3 separate regions of the Homo sapiens genome follow, and all the other regions are linked to region 2. The links come from fine-mapping of genetic effects on gene expression. A gene starts in region 2. Each other region holds a variant in brackets. All regions are shown on one strand. Distances are from middle to middle. Region 1 overlaps PRKG1 (protein kinase cGMP-dependent 1). Region 2 holds the start of PRKG1 (protein kinase cGMP-dependent 1). Region 3 overlaps PRKG1 (protein kinase cGMP-dependent 1).

Evidence for each region.
Region 1: its variant is fine-mapped to the expression of PRKG1 in blood mononuclear cells (TOPMed, PIP 0.99).
Region 3: its variant is fine-mapped to the expression of PRKG1 in prefrontal cortex (ROSMAP, PIP 0.95).

The regions. Positions count from the first base shown.
Region 1 is chr10:51,242,603-51,250,699 of GRCh38, reverse strand. The region is part of intron 2 of PRKG1 (protein kinase cGMP-dependent 1); the gene reads right to left. Among named protein-coding and RNA genes, the nearest start is that of MIR605, 53 kb to the left of the region's middle. The variant A/G (reference allele first, on the strand shown) is at 4,264.
Region 2 is chr10:51,070,310-51,078,406 of GRCh38, reverse strand. PRKG1 (protein kinase cGMP-dependent 1) reads right to left here and starts at 3,920. Exons shown (of 18, transcript NM_006258.4): 1 at 3,506-3,920. The coding sequence starts at 3,816.
Region 3 is chr10:51,148,837-51,156,933 of GRCh38, reverse strand. It overlaps PRKG1 (protein kinase cGMP-dependent 1), which reads right to left. Exons shown (of 18, transcript NM_006258.4): 2 at 3,604-3,770. Among named protein-coding and RNA genes, the nearest start is that of PRKG1, 78 kb to the right of the region's middle. The variant C/A (reference allele first, on the strand shown) is at 3,940.

The DNA of each region.
Region 1 (8,097 bases), 170 kb before region 2:
TCATAGATGGAGTTTTGCACAGTCACTTGTCAGAGATAGAAAGGCAAGTGCTTTTCTAAGCTGAAAAAGGCACAAACTTTAGAAAGAAAGGATGGTGTGTCCCTGACTGCTTTTGGAAAAGTGAATTCCAGTGAACCTCCTTGCTTCAGTAGTAAGCTGGGAGACACAACACATTCAGAGAGAAAACAGCTGACAAAATCATCCATCAAAGTCTGAGACTGGGAATTCACCAGTCTCCATGAAAGGTCTTTGCTTTTGCATGACAGGTTATTCCATCATTCTGAAACATACTTCCCACTTTCCCATGGGTTAAACTTGTTCTATGATCAGCAGTCCAATTCAGGTTTCAAGCAATCATTCACTCTTAGTTCTTTCAAATGTCATAAATTGATACGTTGCTAAACATTAGTTTCTCATAGAATGTTTCCTAGTATTTCTCAAACTGTGATCATTTTTATGCCACCAAATATTCATTTTCTTGCCAAAAGCAAGATAAATTTAGATATCTGCCTTCTCCCAAGGTATACTGAATAAATTGGTCTTTTGCCAAAAGGCTGTTTAGGGTAGGTTGGGGAGTTAAACCACAGCAACCCTGCAATGAGAGGGACAAGCCTCACTTTTCCATTCAGTAACTGTAGGCTCATGATGTCAGTAAGACTTCCAGGGTCTCAGTTTTCTCCTCTAATAAACAAAGTACCCTAGATGATAAGAATTACATAAATGCATGTGGATATGTTCTAAGCTATGAAGCATCATCTAACATATTACTTACGCTTTTAAAGGCACTTAAGCACAATATGACATTTTAGAGTTCATAATTACAAATGTGTCACCTGGAATACAAAGATGACAAATATGCCCGGCTATTAGAATGCACACTTCACAATGATAGTAGTGTTTGTCATGTTCACTGGGCTGCAGAAACACTGGAACAGTGCCTCACACATAGTAGATGCTCAATCAGTACTGTTGAATGAAAAATTGTATAGTGTCCTTTGTTAAACATAACAATTTATAATATGCTGCTACTTGCGATTATTTTAATAAATGGTCATTTTTTTCATTTATGTTCTGTCTCCTTTCTAGGGAAAGTTGAATTGTTTTGCAAATAAAATTACAAAACCTGAGTCTAACACTATTAGCATTCAAAATATCACCTAAAATATGTCTGATTAGAATATATCAATTAAATTTAATTTACTTTAAATAGCCAAGAGAATAGGAACAACATATACAGCCATTTATAAACAGCAAATAAGAAATGACAGTTTCCAGATTTATATTTTCTACATATTTTAAAAATTCCTATGGCATTCACATGTTCTCACATGTTCTGTATGTCAAAAACTTTTCAAGTTAATATTCAGTGCATTTTCTAATGTTGATAATTCTATAATATATGCGTTGCTTAATGTCCAGTGATTTGGGTCCATGGGGATGACCCCATTACTAACATTTTCTTATAAGCTATTCTTTCAAACTATATATTACAACTTTTTAAACTAAAATTTTTTTGCCCCTAGTTTTTTGTAGAGAATGATTTTAAAACGTAAGTTAACCATGGCTGCTATTTTAATACAGCATTAACTGTCTTCCTCGCCTCTTAAAAAAATTTATCATGTTTTTAAAAATTTTATAAATGATAAATTTGCATTAAACCTTATATTGCTTTTAATCTCCATGAGCCAGATAAAATTTCACCTTCGGTTGTACTTAATTTTGTCTGTAATCTGACCGGGGTCTTGATTACTCAATCACCAATTTCTCAGGCCAATTAACATTTACAACATCTTTAGAATATGAGGGATGCTTTTTATAAGAAGAATAAATTTTATTTGATATAATGTAATTAAAGCATTTTACCTTAGTTGTAATGTTCATTAGTTGTTTTTTTTTGTAATTTCTATGTAGCCATCTACATGACATAGAATTTGTTATACTGTAGTTGCAATAGAGAATAAATTTTACAATTTTCCATGCACTTTTATATGAAACTTTAAATTGCACTATTTCAGTTAGCACTTCTTTAAATATATAAATGCAGTTCAATAAAGTTTGCCATAGAGACCATTTCTGTGATCAGAGTTTTCTCATCATAAAAATTAAGAGAATGAACTAAATGGATTCTGTTAATTTTAACCATAAGATACCATAATTGTACAAACCTGATTTAATGCTGACTTTTCGACAACTGCAAATGTACTTAGATGAGAAAATGTGAAGTTGAATATAATATCATGGTTACAAATGCACAGACCATTTTGAATTGCAGGTCTAAAAGAGCGATTTTTTTAATAAAACATTAATAATAATATGCAAACTATTCTCTTCCAACCCAAATATTACCAATATTTTGATATGCACTTGAAACAAGACCTAGAAGAAACATAGATATTACAATCCATCTTATCTCTGGAAGATCTGGATGTATGAATATTTGATCCTGACTTTGTCATACTACATTGAGCAGAGAATTAATATGTATTGAGTGTGCCCTATAGGTCAATAACTGTCCTGGGCAGCCTGAGAACATTTTCAAGAGCAACCCTTAAAGCTTAACAATGTATGTAGTTTAGTTTTTCAACAGCCACAGATAAATTCAGTCCTTCTAACTTTCTACCTAAGGGTTCATTTACTCCCTTTTACGATTGTTGTTTAACATTTCCCCTACCACTTTGCCGTTACCTTTATTGTTGTTGTTAACAGACACAGTAATTCAAGTTATAGCAATGTAAGCAGGCAGACACAAACTGAAGATTACATGAGAGAGTTGAGAAAGAGTCCAAGCTGAAGTGACCTTCATGCACAGGTAGAAAATGGAAATCAGTAAATGACTTGGCCAAAAGTAGGAAAAAATCAATTTAGTTTTTAAAAGAATGGGAGAGGAAGACAAGAGAAACAGAAGAGAGAGAAAAGAACGCCATCAGAGCAAATTTAGAGGCCAGAAATGAAAGAAAAGACACAGCAATATGGGATATAGGTGGGGCTCCATTTGCTCATTCATTGATGTATCATTCATTCTACAAATTTAGCAGGTGCCTTCTATGGGGATGCACTATGCTGGCCCCTGAGGATTTGGGAATAAACAAGTTAAACAACGTCCTGTCCTCAGGGTAATTAGCTGAAAAGGCAAACAATTTTTGTTTTATATATTTAATTGTTAAGGGTGTAAATTTTGCTGGATATTTACTTAAACTTAATATCTCATGGAAAGTAATGTTTACTCTGAATTTTTTCCTTGAATATTTCCTTCTCCTCATATGCATATGAAAAGGACCAAGAAATGTGTTTTGCTCATGTAATTCTTTAATCTCCTTTATTTTCTGATTTAAATAGATATCTAAGTTTCAGATGCACAATTAATTCCTTTCTTCTCTTGCATTTTTGAGTAACAAATGATGAGTATGGAGGGAAAATTGGCTCAATAAACATAATAATAAAAACTGTCAGTATACTTGAATCATTTTCCCAGTGCACCAAAAACTAATTGAGCTCTAACACACAAAGTTGACCTATAGGAAGAAGCAGGGGTTTTTTCATCTTCTTGACTACTATTCTTGTCTCTTTCACAGTCTTACCAGCCACGTGAGAACCATACATTTATTACTCCATTCATCTTCTTGTACAATTTACCTTCTCATACCTTTTCCCTTCTCTTTTCGAATTATGTCTTGGTCCCAAATCCAGAATCCACAAATGCATGGTCATGAAACAAATCCAGACCACAGAAATGTTGCTTTTGGGTCCCCAAGTTTTAAAAATGTTTCATTTTGTTAGCTGCCAGTGTTTAAGAACTGGAAGATATAACATACCTTTCCCAAGGTACATGTTCTTCTGAAAACTGGGAAGATTTGGTCACAGGGTATCAATAAGGGGCTGAATAGCAGTGAACAAGAGCTCTCCAATTCGCCACAGTCCCCAATTCTCCTATTCATGCCTGAGTCTGAGGCCAAGGTTCTGCCAGTTGACATTTATCATCATGTTTCTTTCTACTACTGTTTCATTGTTGGAAATATTTTCCTGTACCAACATCTGTCAGAAAAGTTGAAAAATGATAGATAAATCACCTCATTGTTTTTTTTTTTTCTTTTTTTTCTGTTGCTGTTTAATGCCAGGGGTTAGAAACATTCTGCAAAGGGCTGGAAAGTAAACATTTTGGGCTTACCTGGCCATACTGTCAGTGTCTATACTAAACTCTGCTATTGCAGTGCAGCATGGAAGTAGTCACAGACAATATGTGAAAAAAAATAGGCCTGTGTTCCA[A/G]TAAAACTTCATTTACAAAAACAGGAGGTGGGCTGGATTTGGGCCAGAGTTTGTGGAGTGCTATCTCTCTATCTATGCTGTCTGGATCCTGTGGGCATGTGGGTTTGCAACCTCTGCTCCCATTTCTTTTCAGCTTCAGTTTCTATCAAAACAACTTTTTATTAGTTCCTTTTCCACCTCACTTTGGACTCGTTTATAAATGTTGATATTTGTTTCAAAATGGCTGTTATAAGATAATGTCAAATTTGTCTATTAACTTTCTGGGTCAGAGAAAGTCAGTCCATCTTGCGGAGCAGCAAGTGCAAATCTCAAGGACAGTGGAATGGTAGGTGCATAGCTATGAATTTGCTGCTCCCTTCCTCAAAACCTTTGAGGCTTCTCTATAGCCTAATAATACAATGGAGTCTGATACCAATGTACTGTCTCAGCCATATTTGTCCTCCCTTGCCCCACCTATGAATTATTTGCTCAAGCCATTCTGGATTGTTTGCTATTATCTAAGTATAACTCCTAGCTTTTGCTCTTCATTTCTTTGATCAAGCTTCCTACTCTCTAGTACAGAAGGAGGTTGGTTTAAGGGGAATCCAGTTCCACCCATATTATGAAGCCTTACTAAAATGATATGCTTCCCATGAAGCCTTCTCAAATTCCAACAGTTACAGTTAAGGTCTTCAGTCTCAGTGTTCTCTTAGCACAATGAGAACACTTTTTACTAGGTTGTATCATATGAGGTTGTTACACTTTTAGGTCAAATATTGGCAACCTAATATATATATTCTGCTTAAGATTATATCAATAAATTATATACATGTCTGTTCCACTCCTCAAAGGCAGAGACTGCATCTCATTCATCTTGCTACATGCCTGGTGTCTAACACAACACCTTGCTCAAAGAAGAGAAGTATTGAATTGACACACTGAATTTACAACATCTTCAGTATTAACAGAGTAAGGAAGATAGTGTGCACATCTCTAAATTACTTTTAACTACTGCAAGGAAGGCCTTAATTCCTGACCTAGATTACTTAAATTTATAAAAATAGTGCCAGGGTTTGGGGGAAAGGGGGCAGAGTTGTAGTTGAAAGATGCATTGGCACTTTGCTGGCTGCTGACATTCTGCTAATTTCACTAGATAACAGGGACCCAGATGTTGTTATATGATTAAGTCAGTTTCAACTAGAAATATTGTGAAAATCTTGTGGCCAGAGGAAGCCTCTCATATTCAGAGTAAAAAAAATCTAATTTAGTAAAATGTGTGATGTCTTATGGGCTGTCTTATATCCTTAAGTTCTTTTCAATAGGAGAGCAAAAGAGAAATCTGTTGGCAGTACAGTGCTTGCCACATTCCTGTTGCTAAGCAAAGGGAAGCTAGGGAGAAGAGGAAAAGCGAAGGTCTGTGAATCAGGGGCAGTAAAATTCTAATCAACTCTTGGTGTTATGCTTGGCTGACTTTCTAGAGAAGGAAAGGCAGCAGTCTGCATTGGTATATCCAAAGGCTCAGGAATGTAGTCCCAGTATTCACAAAGGAAAACGCTTCCACTGTGAAGTTTGCAGTTAAAAAGATACAATCTCGGTTGTAGAAAAAAAAAAAATGATAAGGTAACCTCAAGCAGCTGAGGAGCTCACAGACATTTTTTTCCAGTAAGTGACTATAAAACAGCTATAAAACGGAAAAATTATGACAAGGTATCAATCTCTTTTAAAAGGATAGTAGGATAATTTTTTATGTTAAGAAGGTTTTCATTACAAACATGCTAAAATGTAGTCTTTTTTTCCAGTAATTTGAAAATACATAAGTTTAAAAGTTAGGAAAGAAAACAAAAACCTTACTGTGTTTCATCCCTCTAGGGATCCCTTAAGGCATTTAGAGGTAAAGAGCAATTAAAACGGGGCCTTTGGATTCTTTGCAATAGAGACTCCACAGCAGGGGGAATTGGGAGGAGGAGGCAGAGTGTGTGTGTGTGAGAAAGAACCACTGAATGTTCTATAAATAAATATGATCTACTCTACATATCCCCCTAGACATGAGGGTGACCTCAGAAATGATATTGAGATTTCAGGCTACCTGCAACAAATCATTATCTTGGATTCACCTTGACAATATAAATGGTAAAAAAAAAAAAAAAAAGGAAGAAAGGGAATATTCCTACACTCAATTCAAATGCTTAGTTTCCTTAATTTCAATTTGCCACATAAATAAATGAAAATCTAATCAAATAACTAATAAGTTTTAAATAGTCCCATAGGTATTACATTTTATGTAAAGTATCTATGATATATTTTTAAAATATTTATGTTGTTCCTTCTTGGGAAATTTTATTGATTGTGTGTTTATATGTGCTCAAATAAGAAAAAGGTTATTTGAACATTGGGCCAAGAAAGATTCTATTGCTTGCAAAAGAAACAAAACATGACAACATCAACACAATAGAACAAAATTCAAAACTCGTTTGTTACATTTGTTAGGGATAATTACTGCACACTCTGAGCATCATTGGTCTAAGAATAATTTATTTACCAAAGCAGTAAGAAGAGTCTTTAGAAATTAACCAGGAAAATGGCAGAAGGCAATATAAGAAGTCAAGTAATACTCTCCTGCAAATGTAATTGTTCCGTTTCCAGCCCTGCTTCTCTAGGAGTATATCTACTGATATCTACCAATTAATTAGCATTTCCAGGTGCATTTAAGTCTTGGCATCAGGCCCATAGTCCTTGTTCACAGGTATATGAAAAGAGACCTTGCCAAATGCTCACCAGCACTATGGGGAATGAAACTGCCCATGCCATGATGGATTACATCAGGAAAGATCTATCTAATGAAGGTCTTCAGAAGCAACAAATCAACACAGAAAAATGGCTGATGTCCAGAAAAGGGAAAACAATTTCTTTAGGTCTCTGTACAGACGATGAGTCCAGGGAGGAGGAAGAACATGGGGAACTAGGTAGGCACCTGCACATACACCACAGCAGGGAAAAACATAAGGTCCGCCAGAGCAATGCCAGGAAATGGTGATCCTACACCCTGACCAGGGCAAGAGCCTTCTGCTGACTGCTCTGGCTTCACAGCTATTCCAGGGACTGAGCTTTTCCCATTAGGCCAGTGGTGGTGAACAGACCTGAGACTCTGCACTACTCTTTATCAGTTCCTTTAAAACATGTCCACATGTAAATAGTCCTTTTAATAAACTCTCCTCAAATTTCCCTGCTTAAGTCAGCTGTCTGTGTCCTGTGGGCTCTCTCACTGATACATCATCCAAGTCAGGAAAGAAAGGATGAACACAGTCACACTAAGGCTAAGGGGCTTACAATCCCCCACCAAAAAGCCTTCCTTCTAACTGATATCTACTAATTAAGGGGCATTTCCAAGTCCATCTCAATGTATTAGCACCATATCAATTCTTATTATTCACAAGCATGCCATTGAAGACCTAGTGAAACATTCACAGAAATCCAGTATGTCTACACCGGGTCTCCAGCCTCCCTCCAAATCTAATTCACTTTTTTCCAAGAGAGAAATTAAATCACTTTGGTATAATCTGTCTTAGTAAACTCAAGATGATTCTCAGTGATCACCTGCAACCTGTCTTAGTGTTCACTATATTTTCACTAATTGATTCCAGATTTTTGCTCATGATTGGCATCATCCCACCAAGCTAATTAATCTAAAAATTGGGGGATTGAGCTTCTTTTCAAAAATTATATCAACCTCTGGTCAATTACAATCTTCCTGCTCCTCTCCCATTCTTTGTAACTCTATAAAGTAACAAAGATCAACATAGCAATTGCATTTATCCCAGTGTTACATAACTAACTTGTCTAATGTTTGTTTTACCC
Region 2 (8,097 bases):
AAAAAAAAAAAAAAAAAAAAATAGCCAGGCATTGGTGGCACGTGCCTGTAATCCCAGCCACTCAGGAGGCTGCGATGGGAGAGTTGCTTGAACCCTGGAGGCGGAGGTTACAGTGAGCCAAGATCGTGCCACTGCACTCCATCCTGGGTGACAGAGTGAGACTCTGTCTCAACAACAACAACAAAGGAAAAAGAAAGGAAACAAAATAGAACATGGAGTGAAAGCAACAGCTTACAAAAATACAAAGACACTAACCACTTTTAGGAACTCAAGTCTATATAATCCAACTGAAATGACTGAAACCCTGTGACATGAAAATGGAAAAGATTTGGGAATATTTTCAAAAGATAAGGGGTTTAGATCAAAATTTCAGAGACTGAATGTTCTAACATGATATAGAATCAATTTCAGGAATGAAACTTCATGAAATAAAATTACTTAAGTCCATAAGAACTATTCTATATAGGCAATCAACAGGCTATCTGATCTCACATAATGAATGCTTAGGTTTTGTTTTTCATTTTAAGGGTTTATTTGCTCAGTTTATTTCCAAATATAGTTTAGTAGTTTTACATTCTCAAGGAGTTATTTGGTAGCAGTGGAATACAGATTCCAATTTGCTACATCAGTTCTTTCCTTCACATAAGTATTGTATCTATACAGATTGTGAAAGAGACCAATAAAAACCCTCCTCCTACCTCATAGTTATAGCAGGAGTGTCCTGGCTCAGTGCTGGAATCTGACAGAACCTTCCCTCCAATTCCCACATTAAAGGAAAAATTCCAAGCCAAAAATGTTAAAATGATTCAAGTTATTAAGTTAATTTACATTTTATACTATTTTTAAATGACCAAATTTACCAAGAAACCAGAACTAAAAAAAATTATAATCCTCAGAAGGCAACCTTAGTAAGTAAAAACTAAACAGATATATTTGCATATATCAGATAAATGAACAGAACATTAGCGGGGCAGTTACCTACATCTAAAAAAAAGAGAATCAAAAACTAGCATGAACGTAAACTGGAAATTAATGTGTCTATTTAGATAGTTTCATTTTAACTGGAAACTCACAATAATCTATATGTATGTTTAAGAAAGATGGCTACATTTAAGATGTAGTAAAGATGAAATACAAAGACACAAACACTTGTTGCCAGTAAGTCCGTGTAATCAAATTATTCATAGTGAAATACATTGAAAGGCAAACAAGTCTTCTTTGGTTTGGCAGGTTTTCTTAACTCTTTGTGGAGCTACCTTGTACAACCATTCAAACAACATAAGATTTATTCATTTTGCATACAATGTACTTCTTTTTTCCCTAAGAAAGGTACACTTTCTACTACTCAAGCCAATTTTTTTCTAGTTTTCTTTATGTAAGTGTGAAAAAAGAACAGATGTTTTTCCAAAATTATTTAAGCTTGGAAGGCATTCTATCATTTTCCTCAATAAAATACTTCAGAGTCACCCAAAGCATCATGGCAATACCTTAAGAGCTGAGTCCTTTAAAATACAAGTTATTAGTAAGAAATCAGTATCAGGACACACAGTGTTGTTTGATAGATAAAATGTTATTATAATGATAGATAAAATGTTATTATAATGGGATGCTGTAAATTATTTGCCACACCAGCTTTATTTTCCACTCTGGACCTTTTTCGTTTGTTTGTTTTTCAATCTAGATATTCTACAAGTCATGTACAAAGAGGCTTTTAAACTTATCACATTGTATAGCTCATTCCCTACTGCCTAGAATCTTGTAAATCTCTGATGGAATGTGTAACTGGAGTTATCAGCTGGCTTCAACATGCTTCACTATGAAACCTATTAAAGTGGTCTTTTTGTAAAAGCAGAGTTTGCTCTGTGTCACTCAAAAGTCCTGCGGATACAAAAATGAGATCCTATGAAATGTTTAAAGATGCAGAGAGCTGTCTTTGAGTTATTTTTTCATTATGCAAAACTTGGCCCAGGAGAGATGGTCATGTACCTCGTTAGCTAAAACAGTCAGGCATGTCAGGATTGCAAATTAATTTACCAGAGAAAGTTGAAGTTTATTCAGATCACTCAGGTTTCTAAGGCAGATCTAAGTCTGCTGAACTATTAGGGCAATTTGGTAAGGTCAGAATCTCAGAAATGTTTATCCTTATTGTCTCTTTCCAACTCCCTCGCAGAATACAAACTCCTCCCTAAACTAAGCCTGCATGAACAGCAAATGTTCCATGGGAATCAACATGTATAGGTATAACTCTAAGTTTTCAAAAGTAGTAATTGGTACATGCTGTGATTCTCCCCAAAAAACATCCAATAAATACAAATAGAGATAATCAAATATTTACTTTCTCCTTATATTAACTTGTTGTATTTATGAAGTGAAGGGTTTCGATGGACCTTGCATTATTACGTAACACGTGCCATCCAGCCAATGTGATTTCGTTAGTAGTAGAGTAAGCAGCAATATCCTTGGTTTTATCAATTACGTTATTATCTATTAATTTAAAATGCCGTTCTTTTGGGTGCTCTCCCACATTCTGTTAACCTCATGTTCCTGTCGCTTTACTCTCCATATGAACTCTGAGTTGAGTGTTGTATAACAAGTTTCATTAAATTTTTCCCATCCAAGTTATGAAGCCCACTAACATCAGAATTGCACAGTTCCCTAAAAGGCTAGAACAATGCCAGAGTGGTTGCATTAGAAGCCAAGAGTAAGGCAAACAATGGGTCCACGTTTTAAATAAGATAAGTGTGCTTATCTGTATCTGACCCTGGAAACAAGCAACCACCTCTTGGGAGATGGAGATGCTCCATTAGTAACATTATGCACGTTTCTTAAGTAAAATAAGCAATCTTCTCCCTCATATGTTATGAAAAAATATTTCTTCAAAATCAACAGACTAGTCTTCCATTTATGGATTGTAAATGTCATCCAATTCAGGAAATCAAAAATTCTTCCTTTTTCTATGCCTATTTGCTTATGTTTCACACTTTGATGATGACAAGAACGTCAGGTTTGAAGGGTACCAGCGTGAAGCGCCAGCAGGTAGAGAAATCCGGGAGAGCCACAAAAGCATAGAAAGTATGGGTGATCAGACGCATTTCATTTCAAGTCTGATGAGCCTGCATTTAGGATTTTCCAGCTGGGCTGGTTTGCCAGGGCTTTTGGGAGACGGGGGCTTTTTATTTCTTCTCTCACACTCACACACACGGTCGGACACACACCTGGGACGTGTTCAAACTCTACGTACACTAGGTGGCTTATACGAATGTATATGTATATTTAAAAATAATACCTTGACATCTGACAAAGACACGAAGGCAACGTATGTGCAGTGAGTCTGGCTCTGAGAAACGTGCACAGCCCCGCAAGAAGTGCCCGTTAAAATGAAACATTTCTGAGGATGAGGACAGACATGGCAAGCGGGAGGGGCGGGGGCCGACAGACAATACAGAGACCCGCAGCTCCCCATCGCCAGGGCGCCACATGGACCCGGCGCGTCACCCCTGCTTACTGTGGGCTCTTGGGGTAGAAGGGCAGGGTCACATGGCTGAGATCCTGGATGTCGAAGGCGGTGGGCTCGGCGGAGATCGCCTGCCGCTTGGTGCGCGGCTCGCCCTGCAAGGTGCTCGCGCTCTGCTTCTGCGCCTGCTGGGTGGCTGGTCGGATCACCGAGCGGTACTTGTCCAGCTCGTTCTGCAGCTTCTGGATCAGTTCGTCCTTCTGATCCAACTCCAGCTCCAGCTCGTCGATGAGAGCATCCCGCTGCCTCAGCTCCTCGATCTTCTCCTGGAGCGCGTACTGTAAATCCCGCAAGGTGCCCATGCTCCTCCGGGCTGCCGGGGGCTCCTTCCTGCCGCTGCTCCGCGTCTTGAGGCTTCCTCCCCTCTCCGATCAACTTTCCCCAAAGTCGCCGCTGCCTCCCGAGTGCCAAAGCTTCCTACTTGAGACCAAAGCCAGCCCTGGCTTCTGAGCATGCCCAGTCCGCCGGCTCCAGCCACCCAGAGTTTCAGTGCAGATTCCACTTCTCTGGGCTGGCTGTGAGGCTCAGAGCGGGGAGAGCAAACCAGCAGGTCCAACCCGGGATTAAACCTGAGACGCGGTGGGCGCCGCGGCGCGGGGGAGAAGAGTCGGAGGCGCGGTGGCGGGGGAGCGGGAGGAGGGGACGTGAATGGGGGCTCCGAGGCAGCGGCTGGGCTCTCAGAGTCCCTCGCGCCGGGCGCCCAAGGAAGCTTGCGGGGCGTGCGGGGAGCCTGATAAGCCTCCGAGGCGCGCCGGGGGTGTGCGGGTGGAGCGAGGCGGGAGCGCTACTTCGGGGGTGGGGAGGTGGGAGGGAGGGGACAGGGAGGACCCCGGGCAAACTCGGGAGGCCTCAGCTGACTCCAGAGCAGACCAGCCTGGAGAATGTTGAGCTACGATCCTAGCGACGTACGAGGCATAGGGGACTCTGCATCATCAAAGCTCTGAGTTCTGGAGGTATTTTGACGGCCGGCCTCACTAAGGAAAGCTCCCGAGCGGTGTGGCCGAGCTGTCGCTTCTCCCACGCCACCTTTCCCACCCAGAGCGCCTCACACAGGTGGCTAACGCTTGCGAAGAAACTTGCCTCTCAGGAGATGCGAGCGAGTCGGCGCCCGCGAGGAATTCCCCCTTTCAGCCTACTACCTTTGGGAAAGGGTTGTGGGGTAGGGGGTGGGGTTTCCGATTTTAGCACCCGAGGCGTTGCTACTCTTCGCCTGCTCCAGATAGTTACTTTCCTTTCTGCCCCTTCCAAACTCTCATCGGGGAACTGTTTTAGGGCAAAGGCCAAAAACGGATTTGGGCCCTAGCAGGTCACTCAGCTTCCCCATGAGCCCTCCGCCTTGAGCTGGTGCCTGGGAATAGTTCTCGGATGGGCCTTGCTTCTTCCATTTGCTGAATTTGGCGGGGAGAGGGTGGGGGTTAAAAATCATTCCCGAGCTCCAAAAATTTCATCTTGAAACTGAATCATACCTTTAAAAATATTACTTTCCTCACAACCAAGCTGTTAGGAATGTATCTTTCCACTTGAATGGCCAGGAAGACATCCTGACACAAACTTTGAAGAAGAGGGAAAATCGTGAAGGAGCGAGGGAGACCACGCAGGCTGCAGTGAATTGTACACTATACTGCAGTCACCCCCACCTCTACCCACTCCCACCCTCATCCCTGCCCACTCAATATTCCCCAAAATGATCACAATTAGGTAACTTCCTTTCTATCCAAGTGTTACACTCCCATCATGGGAACACATGTTTAGAATCCCCAAATATCTGCCTAATACGTACCTAAATCCCTAATATTTGCTTAAGACATTACGAACTCATCCAATTTTATAGCATCTTTATTGGCAGATTTTTGATTACTATTCTTGGGCACTCAATATTATAATCCTCAATGCTCTATTTGGTTATTCCTTAACACTAAAACAAAGTGGACAGAAAATAAAATTGAATTGCAATGCAATTCTAAACTTAGCAAAGAATAGTATCAAAATAACTTGCACACTGTTGCTTTTGAATACACAACTTTTTGTATTTAAGCTAGAGACAGAGGAAGGGAGGAAAGGAGGGAGGGAGGTCAAGGTATCTTAACAAGCTTGTTCATTTAAAGTGTCCTTGTTTTTAATTAGAGGACTAAATGACAAAATATATAGTCCTAAATATTCTTTTATGTAGATTATGATCTAGTAATTCTCTTAATGCAGATTACACAAGACACTTCATTTTTCTGCTTTCCAACACAGACTTTCAGAAGTGCATTTATTTCTAAATGTGATATATAAAATGGATCATTCTCAAAACATTTTCTTTTGCAATGAAGAAATGAGCAACTTACAAATATTGAAAATAATAATAGCTCTGAATTACTGTTGTTTTAATTAAAAGTAAACCAAGCAGAAGTACTGTGACTTTGTATAACTCACTGTATTCTAAAAAAGCTTCCATGAAAATTTCCTTCTTCTGGGCAAAAGGCCAAATTCTTATTTAACCTGTGGGAATTCTTTATTTCCATGGGAAAATGTTGAATACAAAATGACTTTTTCCTATAGATCTATTATTGGGGTTCATGAAGCCATGAGTTTATGTCTAAAAATATACCAGATACAATGTATAGAGGACATAATTAGACAACTGCTAAGCTGGGTTCAGAATTCCAGGATTTTCTCTTTGTTTTTTTTTTGTTTGTTTGTGTGTTTGTTTTTGAGACGGAGTTTTGCTCTGGTCACCCAGGCTGAAGTGCAGTGGCGCAATCTCAGCTCCCTGCAACCTCCGCCTCCTGGATTCAAGTGATTCTCCTGCCTCAGCCTCCGGAGTAGCTGGGACTACAGGCACCCGCCACCACGCCGGCTAGTTTTTGTATTTTTAGTAGAGACGGGGTTCACCATGTTGGCCAGGATGTTCTCGATCTCTTGATCTCGTGATCTGCCCGCCTTGGCCTCCAAAAATGCTGGGATTATAGGCATTAGCCACTGTGCCCAGCCATCTCGTTCATTTTTAAAGTGAAAACAAATATTTTAAATACGTTTTTCATTGATGTTTTAGAGTTTATTTAGGGTTTAAATGGGGTTACTTAATGTTTTTGAGCAGCACAAAGAGAGAAGGTTCTTCCTCATTTGTAGAAAGTCTGTCTACATGTACAAAGGAAAATAAAAACTAAAACACTTTCCCCAAAAATAAAAAAACCAAAAATATTTAGGCATTTTGGAAAAAAGTGAGTTTTTTTACACTAAATTATGTAAATACTTATCAGTATTTAAGCTGGCATATCTAAATGCAACTATAGGATGTATACACATTACATTTTCATTTTAAATTTACATCTCATGATATAAAATCTGTTCCAGGATGAATCTGATATTGAGAGTCAGGAATCTGTTATAACAAACACAAATAGAGTAAAAAGCTGAAAAGACATGACTTTTACAATTGACTTTAAAAGGTGTTCAAGGAATAGAATATATTTAGTTATCTCAGGCTGTGTTATTTTTTTAAATTGACTTCCCCTTAAATGCTTTATAATTTCATATGCAAAATCCAGGATTCTAGCCTTTTCTCTTTCATTTTTAAAGTAAAAATAAATATTTTAAGTATGTTTTTCAATGATGCTTTTGACCAGCTGTTTAGATCTTGAGCGACCAGGTTTCCATCTCAACCTTTTGAGTGTTTCCAATATTTTCTTAAACATCTTCTGCGTTGTACTTAGTAAATGCTGGAAATAAACCCTATGTGAAAAATCAAAGTCCTGCAATTACGTCTTAACAGACAAATTATCTTTACTAAGTGTCATGTAGTAAACTTAATTGGCTAAATTACAAGATCAAAGATCAGGCACAAGTCTACTTTCTGCTAATTAGGAAGTGTCTACCTCAGATTCCTTCAGGGATAGAGTAGAGGAGAATGGCTTGATCTGAGCCCTGCCCCACTGCCTATCTGAGATGAAGCTTTGACATTAGATGCTAACAGTTAGAACAATGCAATTTTGAAGGAACTGACTTCATACTCTAGAATTCCAGAAACAACTCACAACCTGTTTTTCAGCAGTCTTCCTTTTTCATAACTTTAATAGAAGCAAAGTTCTACTGGTAGCCAGACCAAACTGTGGCCTGTTGAACTCCAACATGCTCTTTAGTCTTGCACCCAATCCTCATAATTGAGAATAAAAACTGACATGCCTTCCTTAATGGATTCTCAGAATCATTTAATGAGCTATTCCAATAAAGTAGCTTTATTATAATACTGGCTATTCAAAAATAAATCTGTAGAATTTGTCATCCTTCACTAAAAACATAATTAGCCCAAAAGAACTGTGCTAATTTTATCCACTTATCCATTCCACTGACACTGTATTTCCTGGAAGAATCTTAAGTTTTGAAATTTTCTTCTGTCATTTCATGTGTATATCTTGAATGGGAAAAAATAAACAAACAAATATATAGCTGAGCCTTTCAGGAGACAGAAGCTTCCTCTGGCAGAAGATTGCTAAAAGTAACAAGTCCTCCTAGGAATCTAGATTTTAAAGCTATTACTGGCAGACATGACGGTCTGTTCTAAGTTGCTAATCATAATCAAGATCACAAAAAATTAACTA
Region 3 (8,097 bases), 79 kb before region 2:
GTAAGCAAGCTTGTGGAAGATCCTTTACTGCCTATTCATTCATTATTACCATGGTATACTCTTTATAAATATGAATGTTCACAGATAACAAAGAATCCATCTATAGCAAGAACATTGCTACCTAAATTTTGAGAAGATTGAACTAATGATACAATGAAACATTTCCTCAATTAAAACTTTTTAAAATTTAAATGATCGTTTTTTAAATTTTAAATTATTTTGACATAAGGCTATTAGCACAAGATCTGCTAAAGTTACACTGAGCTGGCTAGAATTACCATTTAGGGAAAGATTGGCATCAGGTTATAAAATTGTAGTCATTTTATTGAGTTTAATTGAAGGCAATCAACAACATTGCAAAAGCTGTGACTCTGAAGGCAGTCAACATCATTGCAAAAGCTGTGACTCTGAATATTGATATATTATTTAGAACCCTGTTTTTAAAAGGATAATTAAGATAACGTGCTGTTTAGTCAATCTAGCAATAAAAGGAAGATAAAGAAAATTTATTAAAATTATCGTGAAGCAATGGGGAAAATATTAGTATACTTACCTGGGGAAGAAATATCACCTATCATGAGTATTTCTTTCTTATTTTGTTACATTCGGGTGTGTGTGTTTGTGTGTGTGTGTGTGCTTGCATCAAATAACTTCGTTTGCTTCCTTCTCTTATCTCCTTATCATGCAGCATAAGATGTATTGACTTTATATCATAGTATTTAAGTATTGTTAACTTCACATCATAGTATTTAAGCTACGGGATATCAATGAGGTGAGTAAACATCACCCAAGAACTTTGTGTCTTCTTTTGGGGAAAGGGTTAGTAAATTTGCAGCTGTACACAGGGTTGTTGAATCATGTTAGGTGGAAGTATGACCTTGTTCTTGTCTTTATTTGAAAATTAAATATGGTTTAAGAAGATATGTATGGGTGCCAAGGTGACAAGGGGTCGATTGACTTGTGATGTTTAATTTTACATGTCAACTTGGATAGGTCACAATACCAGAAAGCTGCTCAAAAATTATTCTACTGTAGACGTTTTGGTGAAGATATTTTAGTAACACCTAAACGAATAGACATTGAGTAAAGCTGATTACCCTCCAATAATGTGGGCGAGCCTCATCCAGTCAGTCAAATAGAAAAAAGTCCCATCTTTCCCCTAGAAAGAGGAAATTCTGTCAGCAGACGGCTTTCAGACTCGAATTGCAGCATCTCTGATCAATGGGCCTTACCCTGTAGATTTTGGACTTGCCAGCCTCCACAATCACATAAACAAATTCCTTAAAATAAATCTCCTTCTCACTGTATATAGACACACACATCCTATTTGTCCTGCTTTTCTGGAGAGTCCTGACTAATACATAGCCCCATAGTTAACAGTTTGAGCTCTGAATCCAAATAGCCTGGGTATAAACCCTGACTCTACTATAAACTAGTTGGGAGACCTGGGCAAATTACTTAACCACATTAAGCTTCAGTCTCCTCATCTACAAAATGGAATAATAAATATTAGCCTTTACCTCACAGTATTGTTTGAGGTTTAAATAAATTTTATATGTAAACAATATTTAGAAAAAGCATGTTCTATGTGTTGGGCATTTTCTAAACATTAACAAATATTAACTATTATTCCCAAGCTTCTTCCAATATAGCTAGAAGACTTTCAGTTAGGCTTAGTAAGAAGGGACAACATGAATAAATTTTAGAAATAATGTCCATGGTTGTTTGGAAATCTACTTTTGTAAGAAATATTTAAGATGAAGGAACATTGAATCCACAGGTGTTCAAAATTGTGGTTTCTTGAATGAAACAGCAATAATTAGCACTGGAAAACAGATGAAGTAAAAGTATACTTTCCTTTATACAATAGCTGTTTTATTAAAAGGTGCTGACCAATATAATATCTGAAAAATAATATCATATGAAGCTATTGATATAATCTCAGAAGTGCTTTAAACGTGGTTTCTAATTGTTAGTAGTTCTTAAGATATTGCCTCTATCTTTATATTCTATACTTGACCTCTATATATTTTTGCCACTTTTCCATCCTTTCTGCTCACTATCCACATATAGCCTTGTCCTATAATTTCATCTCTTTTCTTTGCAATTCTCTGCCAAGTGTACATTATGTGTATTTTTGTTTATTGTGTTTTGTCACCAGAAGAAAGTCTAAATGAATATTTATATTTTTTGGCCTGGGAAGAATTTTATATTGTTGACATAGAAGGTGAAAACTATAAGGGAAAAAAATGATAGAAATTACTACTTAAAAACTGAATGCCTAACATATATCCAAAAAGATGACAAAGAATAAATAAAAGGTGCATGCTGAATGAAGAAAGAATATTTCTTATATACTGTCAAGATTTTAATAGAAATAATACTTATTATTATGTTGTGGTGTTCTATACTTTACATTAAACATTATACAAATTATCTCATTTTATACCAATCGTGTAAAGAAGGCAGAATGCAGGATTTTTCATACGTTGGCTCTAATGACATTTTGGGCCAGATAAATCTTTGTTCTGGGCAGCTACCCTTTTGAGCAGTATGCCTGGCCTTTACCCACTAGAAGTCAGCAGTCCCCCCAACATCACCCCCTTTGTGACAACCAAAAATGTCTCCAGATATCACCAAATGTCCCCTGGGAGACAGAATCATCATCAGTTGAAAACCACTGGCAGAAAGAAAGAATATCTTCTTTTTTTACAAATTGGTTAGGTGAAACAGAGAAATTAAGTGACTTGCCCAAATACACCACTTCTCTGAATGACCTGTAAGTTTGATAATTATAGGACACTATCACACAAATGTTTTGGATAAAACATTAATCACCACCTAAGAAACTGGTTTTCATGTGTCACCATCTTACATTATAGGTATTTCTGCACTCACTTTCTTCCAAGCTGATTCAGTCATTATCTCAAGCTACTTTCTTCCCACAAAAGAAAAGCATGTCAGTATAGATTTCAGGTCAGAAAGAAGTATTATGAAAAATTAGCTAGGCATAAAACATATTACACAGTGCGTGCCTCAGTTTTTTTCAAAACACTTTCTATATTAGTCTTTACAGGATGTATGAAACAAGCTATCATTCCTATTAATTAGGCAGGTAATATTCCATTCAACCTTTATTGTCTGCCTCTGTCATACACATGAAAAACATTTTCTTTTTACAGAAGCTTCATAGCAGGAAAACTAGTCACATATTAAAAGTTAAGGGGAGAGTTGAAGATGCTTAAATTATCGGCCAAAAATACTTCCAGTGATCTTGAGCTTCTGCTGAAGCTTTGTATGTTTGCTCAGTGACCTGACTGCATGAAGAATATTCAGTGTAATAAACTATATTTCTTTTTTCACATTTTTAACTTTTCCATGTCTGAAAAAATACTGGATTCTCATATTAATACTCTAAATACAAACACTTCCCATAATTAGTTAACCACTTTATCTAAGTAGTGTTTCAACTCTTCTCAAACTAATTTCTCAATAAAAGAAGGAAAAATGGAATTTTCCATGTAATGCATTGCCATCTGTGTGCAGCTGATAAGATGAAAAAAGAATATTTGAATGTCAGAGGATTGGAGTTACAAACCGTACCTTCCATGACATACACCAGTGACCCCACGTCTCCTTCTTTGATGATGCAACTGTCCTTGCCATACTCCACCGGGTACATACAATCCACAATCTCCTGGATCTGCGACAGCTCCAAGTTCTTCATAAAGTCATTGTCAAGGATAGCTTCCTTTATAAGATCCTTGGACCTATGGCAAGAGAGGGAAGATTTACTGGCACATCTGACAAGCTCTTTCATAGTTTGTGAGGTTTAGCAGCGCCATAGAGTGCTCTGGCACACCACAAATGTATTTTCTTGTTAGGAATCCAATAATTTTCTGGAAGACTGGAGAACAAAGTATGTCCATGGCAGCAAAA[C/A]AAAAAAAAAAAAAAAAAGGCACTAAGAATTTTTTTTAAGTATTCTATCATTTAATGAATAAGTGACCTACCAACCAACCAACCAACAAAATCATACAAGTCCATTTTGCTTTAGACTTTTTCTTAATCACAAAGATTGCTAGAAAACCAATGGATACATACTTTAAAGTTTGTAATTTAGTTTAAGAATAAACATGAATAAAATTTCAACATTCCAGAACAAATACTATTACTACTGTTTATATTTATAAAAGAATATCAGGGATGTATTGTACTATACACAATTATAGAAAAAAATGTTTACTTATTTTTTATGTGCCTCTTCTGCTAGACTTAATGCTCCACATAAGCAGGGATCATTTTAAATTTGTTCTTTATTTTATGCCCAGTGTCTACTAAGATGCCAGTCATCTATAAATAGTATTTAAAAAAATACCAACCTAACAGCTTTATGTGTGAAGACTGGTGAATATAATGTTACCTTCAGTAAATGGTGGGAGATAATACTGCTCAAGTAATATTTTGGATTAAAAAAGAATTGGATTCCTACTTAGCTATTTGAAACAACTGGTAGAAATGCAACAGTTCTTTACACATGTCCCATGCTTTTTAGAGAATATTTCTTTCTTCAAGCAGCTTAGACTGAGGTAACCAGGCAGATACAACTCTATTGAACAAGATGTTTGAAGTGCAACATGTTTTAGGTATGGGATTCAATACAGGTAGTCAGTAGGAAACATATTCATAAATTTTGTAATTGGAATTCAGTGGTTAACGAGAAAGTTTTAGCAGAACTTAAAACATTGGGATATTTATTTGCTGGGATAAGAAGTTCCAAATGACTTTCTAAGAATGCAAAATCAAAGTGGAAGAAATATTAAGAAATATTTTATCAGGAGGAGGACAATCAGAGCACTATCAGAGAAGTCAGAAGCCACATAAGATGAAAGCAAAGAACTTAGCAATCCAGAGAGGAGGCAGCACATTTGGAATGTCATATTAAAAGTCTTAATTTTTAAAAAATTAAATACAAGCTGACCTTAGTCCTCATTTCCTTAGCAAGTGGCTTCCAGGGGAGTGACCTGCGGTAGTGAACACTGACTAAAGCGTTAGTCTTCCCTCCCCATTTCTGGGAGGCTTTTCATCCAGACCTCAGTCTAACCAGCCTAGCCTTCACCATTATGTTTTGTAATAATTCAGTTTTAAGTAGTGCAAAGATACACATAAAAATAAAAACAATTGAAATTTCATTACTATGAAGAATAATCCTAGAGTGGAACGTTATGCTGCCATTAAAATTTTGTTTATGAGGAGTGTTAATGGCATGGAGGAAATTCTTCTATTATTTTTAAGTGAAAATGCAGGATACAAAATTGATTTTAGAGTAAGAATGTATGTGCCTACTAAAATGTTAAAAAAAAAAAACAAAAACAAAAACATAGGTTTTGAAGAGACATATATTTGGGTTTCAATCCTAGCCCTGACACCTCAAAAATTTTGAGTGGGTTGTCTTACTTTTCTGAATTTCCATGTTATCATCTACAAAATGATATTTTAAAAATATCAGCTGAATAGGTTTATATGTGAAGACCGAGGAATAAAATGTTACTTTCAGTAAATGGTAGGGGATAAAGGTTGTAGCAGTATTAATTGCAGTATTATCTTCACCCCTCCTTATAATTACCTTCACCACTCCTGGTCTCAAGAATAGCAGTGGCACCTTCATATTGACTCCTGAGATCTACTATTCTGGGATTAATTTTCCAAGAATCTAGGCTTATTTGGCATTCAGAAAATTAATCTTGGTCAAATTGCATTACGTTTTCTCTTTCCTAAAAATTTCTTTTCTTTTTTTTTTTTTTTTGTCAGAGAGTGAGGCCATTTGATGGGTTCATAGTTTCTTGTACAATAAAAACTAATCAAGAACCACAACTTGTTCAGCTACATACAGATGACACATTATCCTTTAGGAAGTATTAATAGTACCCTATAAAGATTTAAGTCCTAGAAATTCAGCAAGATTAAAAATGAAGCCCTCTTCCAAGAACATAATTATAATTAGCGCCATCCAAACATGATTGAAGTCGCTTTCTCCCCTCTCATAAATAAGATTATTAATCTGTTTGATGAAGATATTGCAAAAGATTAAACAATGAGCCCTAACACAATTCCTTAGAATTATCCAAACTTTCCAACTGTTTATCACTGAATGTAGAGTGTGGGATGGGAAGGACGGGATTTCAGGATGTTTTTGTTTCTCAAATTTTATTTTGGATGGAGGACATTTAATTTCAGGTCTCTGAAGAAACAAACTGGAGGCTTCCATATAGGCTGTTGTGTCACTTCAAAAGAAACTAATCAATATAGGACCACATCTTACTATTTATACCTTCATACAGATATTGCCAAATAGCATTATTTCTGAATTGTCACAATTTGTCTCTGCTCTCGCAGCAAGATAGATACCTTGTGCCTCTGTGTAGTACAACCCCAAAGATGGTCTTGTCAGAGAATAATACTCAAAGCCCTGCCTTTTCATGTAATTTTCCTTTAAGTCCTTTCCTATTGAGGACTGAAAACCTTAGGTCAACTCTCATTAGTCTTTACTTTCTCCAACATTATAGACTATAATTAATCAGGGCCTCCATCTAATTCTTCTTTGAATCCCTTTCTTTCCCCAAAGAAATGGTCTAAGACACTCACTGTAACTAAGATATAATGCATATAAAATCAGTGAGTTGAGTTGTGTTATTAGTATGGGAGTTGGGGAAAGCCGATATCACAAGTACCAGAAGGTAGCCATCTGCTCAACCCAGAGTATATATTTTAACAATATTTTGAAATAATTCAGCAGCCTGACTTGGGAGGTATAAGAAGCAACCACAAAGATCATGATTTTTTTTAATCTTTACTATCTGCCTTTGTGTACAAATTATTTATTTTTAAAAATCTTTTTCTTTCATGCCCAAAATGTGTGGCTTTTTAAATCTAAACACCCATAAAAGCGACTTGACTCATTTGAGCTATCCCTATTCCTTTGTCATCATTGAATTGTCAGCCTCTGAAATATTAGCTATATATAATGATATGCTGGTATTCTGGCTGTCTGGCTTGGGTGGAGAAAAGCGGAGGAAGCCATGGTGTGTAGCGTTTGCCAATTTCCATGGTGTAAATACTCCCACCATGGCCAATTTCAAGCTTTCATGCAAAATCAACCTGTTTGCAAAGTTCCTGGAAATTAACAAGCAGATCTTACATGAGCCAGTGCAAGTTGGCTCCAGCACAATACTGGATATAGAGTATTTTTCTAACACCCTAAGAATTTAGTGTAACTTAATTTATAAATTCTGAAACCAACATGATAATCCTTTCTTTCCTTAAAAATTTCATGAGGTGGTATAATATCCCCAGATAATTTAATGCCAGGATTAGCAATAGTTCTTTCAAATGTTCAATTTTAGAAAAATAAATTGGAAAATCCATTTCCCCATTTACTTATTACAGAGAAAATTTCTGAATGTAAAGAAAAAATACTTGACAGAAATTATCTTTCTACACAATCTTAGGTAAAAATGGGCAATTTTAGAGTATAGGAAAACATATACCTACTTCTCAAATAAGGGAGCCAGCACTATTCACTGTTAATAAATAGGCCCCCATTAGTTTTTCTTAAGCTAATAAAAGGATATTCTACATTATGGTTACCATACAGTAGGCTAGCAATATGTAAATAACAGTAGGGTTATTTCAAGGTGTAGGGAAGGCTAGTTCAGATTAAGTGGTCAGGAAGGCCTCTCTGAAATAAAGATTATATGACAATGAGATCCAACCATTGTCTTCTCTATTGCAGTGATGACGAGGAAAAGCATTCTAAGTAGAAGTAAAAACAAGGACAAAGGTGTAGAGTTTGGAATGACCTTGATATATTCAAGGATCAGAAAGGAGACCTGTATGGTTGAAGCATACAGTGAGAAAGAAGGAATGGGATGGGAGAATAAGATCACTGAGGTAGGCAGGGGATGGGTTTCATAGGACCTTGAAGACTACAATAAAGAGTTTTATTCCAAACACCAGTGAAGGACTATAAAAAGGGGTATGATTTATAGACAATATAACAGACATAAAGAATAAATGATATAAATTTACTTTAAAATGTTA